3 separate regions of the Homo sapiens genome follow, and regions 1 and 2 are each reported to be linked to region 3. The links are microRNA targets in miRTarBase. Many come from high-throughput screens and were not tested one by one. Region 3 holds a microRNA gene; each other region holds the end of a gene's coding sequence.
What was found. The annotated mature microRNA hsa-miR-548c-3p reads CAAAAAUCUCAAUUACUUUUGC and lies in region 3 at 1,951-1,972, opposite strand. An mRNA with a match to its seed (bases 2 to 7 or 8) in the 3' UTR can be bound and repressed. Matches are read on the target gene's strand: a 7mer-m8 pairs with bases 2 to 8, a 7mer-A1 pairs with bases 2 to 7 and ends in A, and an 8mer does both.

Region 1: miRTarBase lists NAA30 as a target of hsa-miR-548c-3p. Seed matches in the 3' UTR shown: 8mer at 1,070-1,077, 7mer-A1 at 1,848-1,854, 7mer-A1 at 2,058-2,064, 7mer-A1 at 2,599-2,605 and 7mer-A1 at 2,887-2,893.
Region 2: miRTarBase lists ATF7IP2 as a target of hsa-miR-548c-3p. Seed matches in the 3' UTR shown: 7mer-m8 at 838-844 and 7mer-A1 at 991-997.

The regions. Positions count from the first base shown.
Region 1 is chr14:57,409,151-57,412,189 of GRCh38, forward strand. It overlaps NAA30 (N-alpha-acetyltransferase 30, NatC catalytic subunit), which reads left to right. Exons shown (of 5, transcript NM_001011713.3): 5 at 229-3,039. The coding sequence ends at 366. Among named protein-coding and RNA genes, the nearest start is that of NAA30, 20 kb to the left of the region's middle.
Region 2 is chr16:10,481,898-10,484,936 of GRCh38, forward strand. ATF7IP2 (activating transcription factor 7 interacting protein 2) reads left to right here. Exons shown (of 14, transcript NM_001393719.1): 14 at 1-1,741. The coding sequence ends at 352. Among named protein-coding and RNA genes, the nearest start is that of LINC01290, 45 kb to the right of the region's middle.
Region 3 is chr12:64,621,500-64,624,540 of GRCh38, reverse strand. MIR548C (microRNA 548c) reads right to left here and starts at 2,032; the gene lies at 1,936-2,032. The region is part of intron 1 of RASSF3 (Ras association domain family member 3); the gene reads right to left. MIR548Z (microRNA 548z) reads left to right here and starts at 1,936; the gene lies at 1,936-2,032. RefSeq lists an enhancer at 2,951-3,041.

The DNA of each region.
Region 1 (3,039 bases), not on the chromosome of region 3:
ACACAAATCAGTAGAACAGAAGATAAATCTGCAGTGGTCCTCCAAGCCCTTGACCCAAATATAATATTACAATCTTGATGACTGTTTTTGAGTTCTTTCTGTATATTATTTATTGTTTTCACTATCAATTTTTAAAATAATGTATGATTTTTTAAAAAATTGTTTAGTTGGTAAATTATTTTTTAAATTGTGTAATTATAACTTAGTTTTTTTCTCATTTCTTTGAAGGTTGTTTTGGAAACCGAAATAACAAATAAGTCCGCTTTGAAACTTTATGAAAATCTTGGTTTTGTTCGAGATAAGAGGCTGTTCAGATACTATTTAAATGGAGTTGATGCACTGCGACTTAAACTGTGGCTGCGTTGAGAAACTGACATCAAGGAACAACTATCATCCGCACAGAATCGACCTTTGCATGCAATGCAATTTGTACAGAATTGCTTTGCAGGTGGATTTAGTAATTTCCATGCAGCTCTTACCTGTCAGTGTCTCATTGAGTGTCGCACAATATTTGTTGCACTTTGGCATGGCACATTTGTTCTGAATTAAAAGATTGTTTTAAACTTCAGGAGTTCTTTTGGTACCAACAAGATGTGCCAGTTGATAGCCAAGATTTATGTGTTCATTTGCAAAGTCTGCTGACAATGTTATTTACACAGTGATCATTTTATCACAGAACCAGTAAGTGGAACATAATTTTTGTTCCTTAAAAAAGCCAATGTGGATTGTAAAAGTCTTTAAGTATACTAACATTTCACACAAAACCTGCCCTAGTTTTCTGAAGTGGGTGAGGGAGACGCTTCAGTTTTAGGTTTTATTTTTTCAATATTAAATTTTCCATTCTTGAATATTGGTACCTCAGTGATTAGTGAATGAAAAAAATGTAGGGTGGGTATGTCTTACAATGAGTAAAGGTAACAATTAAATTTTGTCTGCCAGTGCCTGTGTAGATAAGTATATTTGTCTTCATCTCTAGTTTTTGAATGCATGCTATCTTTTCCTTTTCTTTAAGGCCTTTGCAAGCAAACTTTTGTTTTTATTTAAATTCTAAATTTGATAAATTATTTCAGATTTTTATAATTTGGATACTTTTTTCAGGTGAATGAAAGAATGGTTTACTTTAGAAGTCCCTTTTTCCTTACAGTAACAAGTTGAATCTACTTGGAAAATTGAGAAATGGCTCAAAAGAGATAAGAAAAGTTGATGGAGCCGGGAATTGCTGGGGTTTAGATGCACTTTTTCTTTTGAGAGTAAGGGAAGTTTTGGAAAAGAATAGAAAATTAGTGTAAGTTGATATGATTTTATTTAATCAAAATTACTGCTACGCTGCGAAGAACAGCTTTTACAAAGTAGCTGAATTTGTTTTTCCCACTTGATTTGGATTCACATTGCTTTCATTTCTTAAAATGCTTCACTTCAGGTTCTTGGTCTTGGAAATAAATTTCAAGGTGCATTGTATCCATTTTAAGCTGCTTTATTTTATTTTCACTTGTATGAGCAAATTCTTGGGGGAGCTTTGCTTTTCTTCTGCCAGAAAAACAAAAGGGGGAAATGAAAATCTTTTTTGGAATGAGTTCTGTGGGTTTTCTTAACAGCCACCATGTTTATTAGTTACATTGTGTTTTGGCCAATCAGTGCAATGTAACAAATTTTACAGTTAATTGCTTTCAATTGAGTCAGTAAACCTGTGATAGATAATTTATTTAACTGGAAAACCTAGGTACCCATAAGAAAAAAGATTCATTCTCTGTGAAAACTGTAGGAATCTGTTGTTGTTTTCATTTGAATATGCTCTACTTCTGCTCTAGTATTTGGTTTGGAATATATTTTGTGGCTCTAATTACTGTATTTTTAAAAACCCTACCTCCATTAACAGTTGGTAAAGGCCCCTTTTCAGGAAAGTTTGTTGCTTTTTTTTTTTTTTTAAAGGAAAGCTGCTCTTTGCTCAGTATAGTGTTTTGAAAGTGAACATAGTAACAAATACTTTAAAAATAAAGATACACAATTTATATTTGAAAATAAAAACTTTCTGCTGGTGGGATTATTTATAGTTCTTTATTTTTAAAGAAAATGTTTTCCTTTTTATATTGCTCTTGAAAGTTTAATGAGCAGAATACAATACTGGTTATAATAAAAATATGGTAACCACACAGTACTCAGCCTTTCAATATGTTTTTGGTCAAACTTCATTTAGGCACTAGCATTTAGAAGAATACCAATCACAGTGATGCTTTTGTTATTTAATATGAAGGAAATGGAACTAAAACATTTATGTCATCAAATTTTATTTCACTTCTTTATATTTGACTTGCTGGTTGATACATAATGGTTGATGAACATATATTTGCTTAAATCACTAATAGGGATGGTTGTAAAGTAGATAGATCATTGGTTCAACCATTTTAGTGTTTTTGCCAGATTGTCAATGAAACCATCATACTGACCTTTTCCTCCAAAATTGCCAAATTGACTGAACTGGTTGGGTGTTTGTAAAGATGACGTTAACTGTGTGACTAAAAAGTCAGATGGTTGCCATATTGTTTGGAATATGTTGAATGTCAGTGTATGCCTTATGTCTTTAATTGGGTATGCAAAAAAATTTTTACTTAAGTAGATTAAAATTTTAACCTCTAGCATGAAAACCCAGCACCAACACTGAAAGACTCCATTCAGGTTGAAGTAGCCTCAAACAGTAATTTACTTTTTGATAATAGGCTGTTGTTTTTCTTAAATAAGCTTAAAACAATTCTATCTGAAATTGGTAGCATGGGTTCACTTGGCTACAACTGAGCAAAATAGATGCAACTTTCTTTTAATGGGGTGCTGCCTCTTTAGGACTGACTGTACTATCCACTGACACTGGTTTGGCAGTTGGTACTGCTGAACATTTTTATACATGCTACCATGAAGCTATATATGTTAGTATTGAAGAAGCTAACGGGTATACTATCATTTTTGATGTGTGGGCTGATTATAATTTCCTGTATTTCCTGTACATTGGGATGAAACTACTTTAGCAAAGTCCACAGATCAGAAACC
Region 2 (3,039 bases), not on the chromosome of region 3:
AGTAGACAAAACCCGAGACACACTTCCTCCCCAGAAGCCTGAGCTCAAAGTGAAACGGGTTTTCAGACCCAATGGCATTGCCCTGACTTGGAATATAACCAAAATCAATCCCAAGTGTGCTCCTGTAGAAAGCTACCACCTCTTCCTGTGTCATGAGAACTCTAATAATAAGTTGATTTGGAAGAAGATTGGAGAAATTAAAGCTTTACCACTCCCCATGGCCTGTACTTTATCTCAGTTTTTAGCTTCCAACAGATACTATTTTACTGTCCAATCAAAAGATATTTTTGGACGATATGGACCATTCTGTGATATAAAATCTATCCCTGGGTTTTCTGAAAATCTTACGTAAAAGGTGTTTAATAATGATATACTACTTTTTTTTTCATATTTGTTTGTTTGCAATGTTACTGTAATACTATTTGCCATTGTAAAAGGCCAGCTCAGATTGTGAGCCCTTTCTATTGGGACAGTCCTCTTCTATATGTTTTAAGTGGCCAGTAATTTAATGAATTTCTGGTTTGTATTAAATATGTCCTTCCAATGGATAAGTTCTAAAACATACGCTATCATTGGCCCATGTTGCTGAGGTGCATTGTGAACAATACCTTTAGTGACTGTGGAACTGCTGCTTCTATCAGAAGACCTAGGATACAAGCAGCCACTGTTTCCTCCGTTAACAATCAGCTTTTAGTAACCTGCTGTGGTCAGCATAGCTACAGGAAAAGTCAGCCCTTGACTGAGGGCCAGATCATCCCTGGAGTGCACCTCTACTAAGATTTTATGAAAAGATGACATGTTGGGCTGCATGATAAAAGTTAATTATAAAAATTAAAAGATTTTTTTTTTTGAGATGGAATATTGCTCTGTTGCCCAGGCTGGAGTACAGTGGTCACTGCAACCTCCATCTCCCTGGTTCAAGCAATTCTCCTATGTCAGCCTCCCAAGTAGCTGGGACTATAGTCACTTGCCACCATGCCCGGCTAATTTATTTTTAGTAGAGATGAGGTTTCACCTTGTTGGTCAGGCTGGTCTCAAACTCCTGACCTCAGGGGATCCACCCGCCTCGGCCTCCCGAAGTGCTGGGATTATAGGCGTAAGCCACCATGCCTGGCCAAAAATTAAAAGATTTTATGAAACGAAATGGCTTCCCATTCTTTCTATTCAGCTTCTAAGTGGGCTATTCATTTGTGCTCTCCTCTTTTTTGTTTTGTTTTGCACTTTGTCAATCATTTGGGGAAATAGCCTGGAGGTCTTTCCTGAATCTGTTTGTAGACATAATAAAATTTGTGTGCTGTGTACACAAAAACATAATGTATCTTATGAAAGCATTACCCAACCTGTTTGAGTTGAGAATGCATTTGTCCACCTTTGATTTGAGGCTTTAGTTTGCTGATTTCCTAAATGCTACCCTTTGATCATTTCCTGGCCACCATCACAATACTAAGGGGCTCAGATGTGTCTTGTGCCCACCTCTTCCTGAGAAGAGATGGAAGTGGAGCTGTGACTAGTACAAGCAGCCCAAGAAACTCTGAACGGGGCCCAATGGAGGCAAACTTGAGCAAATAATTGGGATGATAAGAAACAAAAATAATCCCAACTGTTTGAAAGTTCGAAAGAGGGGCATTCTTTTCTGGTACATGGTGAGAGTTCAGGCTCCAGAGACTCAAAACGGAATGGTTTTCCTTGGCATTTTGTAAATGCTCTCACATCTGTAGCAATAAAGCTGTTATTTTCTGCAGTGTTCTATGTCTTTATTTTTAAGAAAATTACTGATTCATGAGAGGAACTGCCCAGTGAGTTCCATTTCCTACTCAGAGCCAGGAACTCACCCTGGGATTGCCATGGACTAGACATTCACTCACTGTGAAGCCCAAAGACGCGGCCTATAAACAAGATTTTGGTACCCATTACCAAGTGAACCTGCATCTGCAACCAGTGGGCCATCTGGAACGATGATCGATGCTCAAGTCTCTAGCAAATGAGCCTTTATGATCACAGGAAGAGAGAGAGAGGCTGACAGCAAACCTCTTAAGAGGTGGTACCTCAGAAAGCATTACTGTAGCTGGCGCGGTGGCTCACGCCTGTAATCCCAGCACTTTGGAAGGCCGAGGCAGGTGGATCACGAGGTCAGGAGATTGAGACCATCCTGGCTAACATGGTGAAACCCCATCTCTACTAAAATTAATTACAAAAAAATTAGCTGGGCGTGGTGGCAGGCACCTGTAGTCCCAGCTACTCGGGAGGCTGAGGCAGGAGAATGGTGTGAACCCAGGAGGCGGAGCTTGCAGTGAGCCAAGATCACACCACTGCACTCCAGCCTGGGCGACAGAGCAAGACTCCATCTCAAAAAAAAGCATTACTGTTTTGCCTTTTGGTGAGGCGGGGCAAGATCAACAGTTTTGTTTGTTCATTTGTTCTTGAGATAGGATCTCTGTTACCCAGGCCGGAGTGCAGTGGCAGCATCAGTGCCCCTGCAGCCTCGACTTCTTGGGCTCAAGTGATCCTCCCACCTTAGCCTCTCAAGTAGGTGGGACTACAGGTGTGCACCACCATGCATGGCTAATTTTTTTGAATTTTAGTATTGATGAGGTCTCACTATGTTGCCCAGCCTGGTCTCGAGCTCAAGGGATCCTTCCGCCTGGGCCTCCTAAAGTGCTTGGATTATAGGCAGATCCTCGACTGTTAACACAGCAGTGACACCAGAAAGGAGCTAGCCAGCCTAAGGACAAAAGTCATGCTCGTAACACAGTCACACAGTACACAGAACCCACAACCTGACCCCACCCCACAAAATGCTTCCTATACCTCCAGTGGGAAACCTTTATACCTTCATTAGGTAACAGAATCAAACTGAGTGATGACTGAAAATTGAATACATTGAGAAAAGGCTACGGAGTGGCCCAAGGAATCACTAGGAATCCTACAGACTCAAGGAAAAAATACTTTGCAACAACCCAATGAGGTTTGGAACCTGCTACAGTTTATGCAATTCACATTCTACATAATGATATGTTAGACATTTTATGCCCATTTGAA
Region 3 (3,041 bases):
CGCTTTGGGAGGCCAAGGCAGGAGGATCACTTGAGCCCAGGAGTTCAAGACCAAACTGAGCAACATAGTGAGACCCTGTCTCTTAAAAATGTAAAAAATAAAAATAAATTAAAAAAACAAAGAGGTACAATGACTTGCTCAAGATAATACAGCTAGCACTGATTTAAACACAGGGTGCCCTACATAGCTGCTTGCAATTAATCAATTAAGAACACACACCCTTTTAGCCTATAGTTCTCCCTCTTTTTCATTACTGAGTTTTAAGCCCTCACCTCAAACAAGCAAGATGCATTGTAATGTTAATTTTAAAACTGTAACAGAGCTTCCTCCTTTAGGAATGGATTGTAAGTGGATTTGTTGATATCGGTGCTAGGTTTGCCTTTATGAAACGTACTCGTTCCGCTACACAATAAGCCCAAATTCTCTTCCCCCAAATTTCACAAATACTAATTTGGATACAGAGACCATCAACATGACAGCCAAGGATCAAACCCCTGCATGGCAGCAGCACCTCATTCATGCTAATTGACAGTTTCACGTGACCAAATCTGGTCAGAGGAAAAGCAAGAAAGCAATTCTAAAACAGAAATATGGCCGGACATGGTGGCTCACCCCTGTAATCCCAACACTTTGGGAGGCAGAGGCGGGCAGATCGGTTGAGGCCAGAAGTTTGAGGCCAGTCTGGCCAACACGGTGAAACTCTCTCTCTACTAAAAAAATAAAAATAAAAATTAGCCAGGCATGGTGGCGGGTGCTGGCAATCCCAGCTACTCGGGAAGCTGAGGCATGAGAATTTCTTGAACCTGGGAAGCAGAAGCTGCAGTGAGCCGAGATCGTGCCACTGCACTCCAGCCTGGGTGACAGAGTGAGACTCCATCTCAAAAAAATAAAAGAAAATAAAATTCTGAAATATCTGAAAGGGCTGTACCTTCCACCTAAAGGAACACTGGCAAGAAAAGCAATCCACAAGCCTGTCTGAACAAACAGAAACAGACCTTAAATGGACAAACGTAATATTGTTTCTTTATACCATCTACATAATATTTACATTTTCCCATAGCTGGGAAATTACTCACTACAGTCAAGTACCCCTAAATTTACCTCTGGCATGTCATGAAACCTGCATCTGCTTAAGGCCTAAACGGATAAACGTGCTAGTTAAATTTCTCATCTCAGAGTTCCTCTGAAATTAAAGTCCAATAAAATCAACTGAATTTTAATTCCCTTGGAATGCCCTGTTAACTGTAAAACACTAAGAAATGCTAAAGTTAATTTTGGTACTGGTACTTTTCCTCCTACGTGATATATTTAACTATGTTGTTTTCTATTTTCATTTAAAAAAATTTTGCTCCTATGACTTTGCTGGCAAAATATCAAAAAAGATTCCTCGAAACAAGCATTTGTAGAAAATTTTCACGGTGGCCGGGCGCGGTGGCTCATGCTTATAATCTCAGCACTCAGGGAGGCCGAGGCAGGCGGATCACCTGAGGTCAGGGGTTCGAGACCAGCCTGACCAACATGGTGAAACCCCGTCTCTACTAAAAATACAAAAATTAGCTGGGCATGGTGGTATGCGCCTGTATTCCCAGCTACTGGGGAGGCTGAGACTGAAGAATCACTTGAACTCAGGAGATGGAGGTTGCAGTGAGCCAAGATCGTGCCACTGTACTACAGCCTGGGCAACAGAGCAAGACTCCATCTCAAAAAAAAAAAGAAAGAAAAAAGAAAATTTTCACAGTAAGCTTGTTTGAATTAAGAAATTGGGGATTAAGGAGGGCTCATAATCTATCAATCATAAAGTCAGAAGTAACTCTTCACATCTTTTTAAAAGATTCACTTGATAAAAAGATTCTGAAAGAAAAAATTTAAAGTAGGAGTTAATCAGAATAAAAGAGATTAAGCAACAATTTTCTACTTAGGCTTCAACAAGCCTGAAAGTATTAAGTTGGTGCAAAAGTAATTGAGATTTTTGCTACTGAAAGTAATGGCAAAAACCGCAATTACTTTTGCACCAACCTAATAGATGCCAATGCCGATTCCTTTCTCATCGCAATTTTTCAACAAAAGACAGTAAGCCTATAAGTAAACAGTATAAATTATCTTTGGTGGGTAAGGTTTCCAGCAGTTTGTCCTACCATCCTTTTTTCAATACCTAGTATACTTACAAAATAAGTTAGGACTGGCCAGGCACGGTGGCTCACACCTGTAATCCCAACACTTTGGGAGGCCAAGGCAGGCGGATAACGAGCTCAGGAGTTTGACACCAGCCTGACCAACATGGTGAAACCCTGACTCTACTAAAAATACAAAAAAAAAAAAAAAAATAGCTGGACATGGTGGTGCATGCCTGTAATCCCAACTACTCAGGAGGCTGAGGCAGGAAAATAGCTTGAATCTGGGAGGCAGAGATTGCAGTGAGCCAAGATCGCGCCACTGCACTCCAGCCTGGTGACAGAGCAAGACTGTCAAAAAGATAAAAATAAATAAGTTAGGTTCTTCTAAATTCTACCAGAGTGGTTGGAAAACAAGCCCTAAATTTATTGAAATTCAAAGATAAACAGGAACTTCTAGTCACCCTTTTTTTTAAAACACATGGTTAGTAGAAAACACATCACCCAACTCCCCACCTTCTGAATCCCACGGGTTTATTTATGGTGATGCTTTCTTAGCAATGCCTTTCCCATGTTGTAACTACAGGAGTAATAAGTATTTTTCTGAGTTTCAGTGATGTCAGCCTGAAACACATTCTGAAGTATTTCAAAATGCCTGGGCCGGGCACGGTGGCTCACGCCTATAATCCCAGCACTTTGGGAGGCCCAGGCGGGTAGATTACCGGAGATCAGGAGTTCGAGACCATCCAGCCTGATCAATCCTGTCTCTACTAAAAATACAAAAATTAGCCGCGCATAGTGGCGCATGCCCATAATCCCAGCTACTTGGGAGGATGAAGCAGGAGAATCACTTGAACCTGGGAGGCGGAGGTTGCAGTGAGCCAAGTTCGCACCATTGCTCTCCAGCCTGGGCAACATGACCGAAACTCC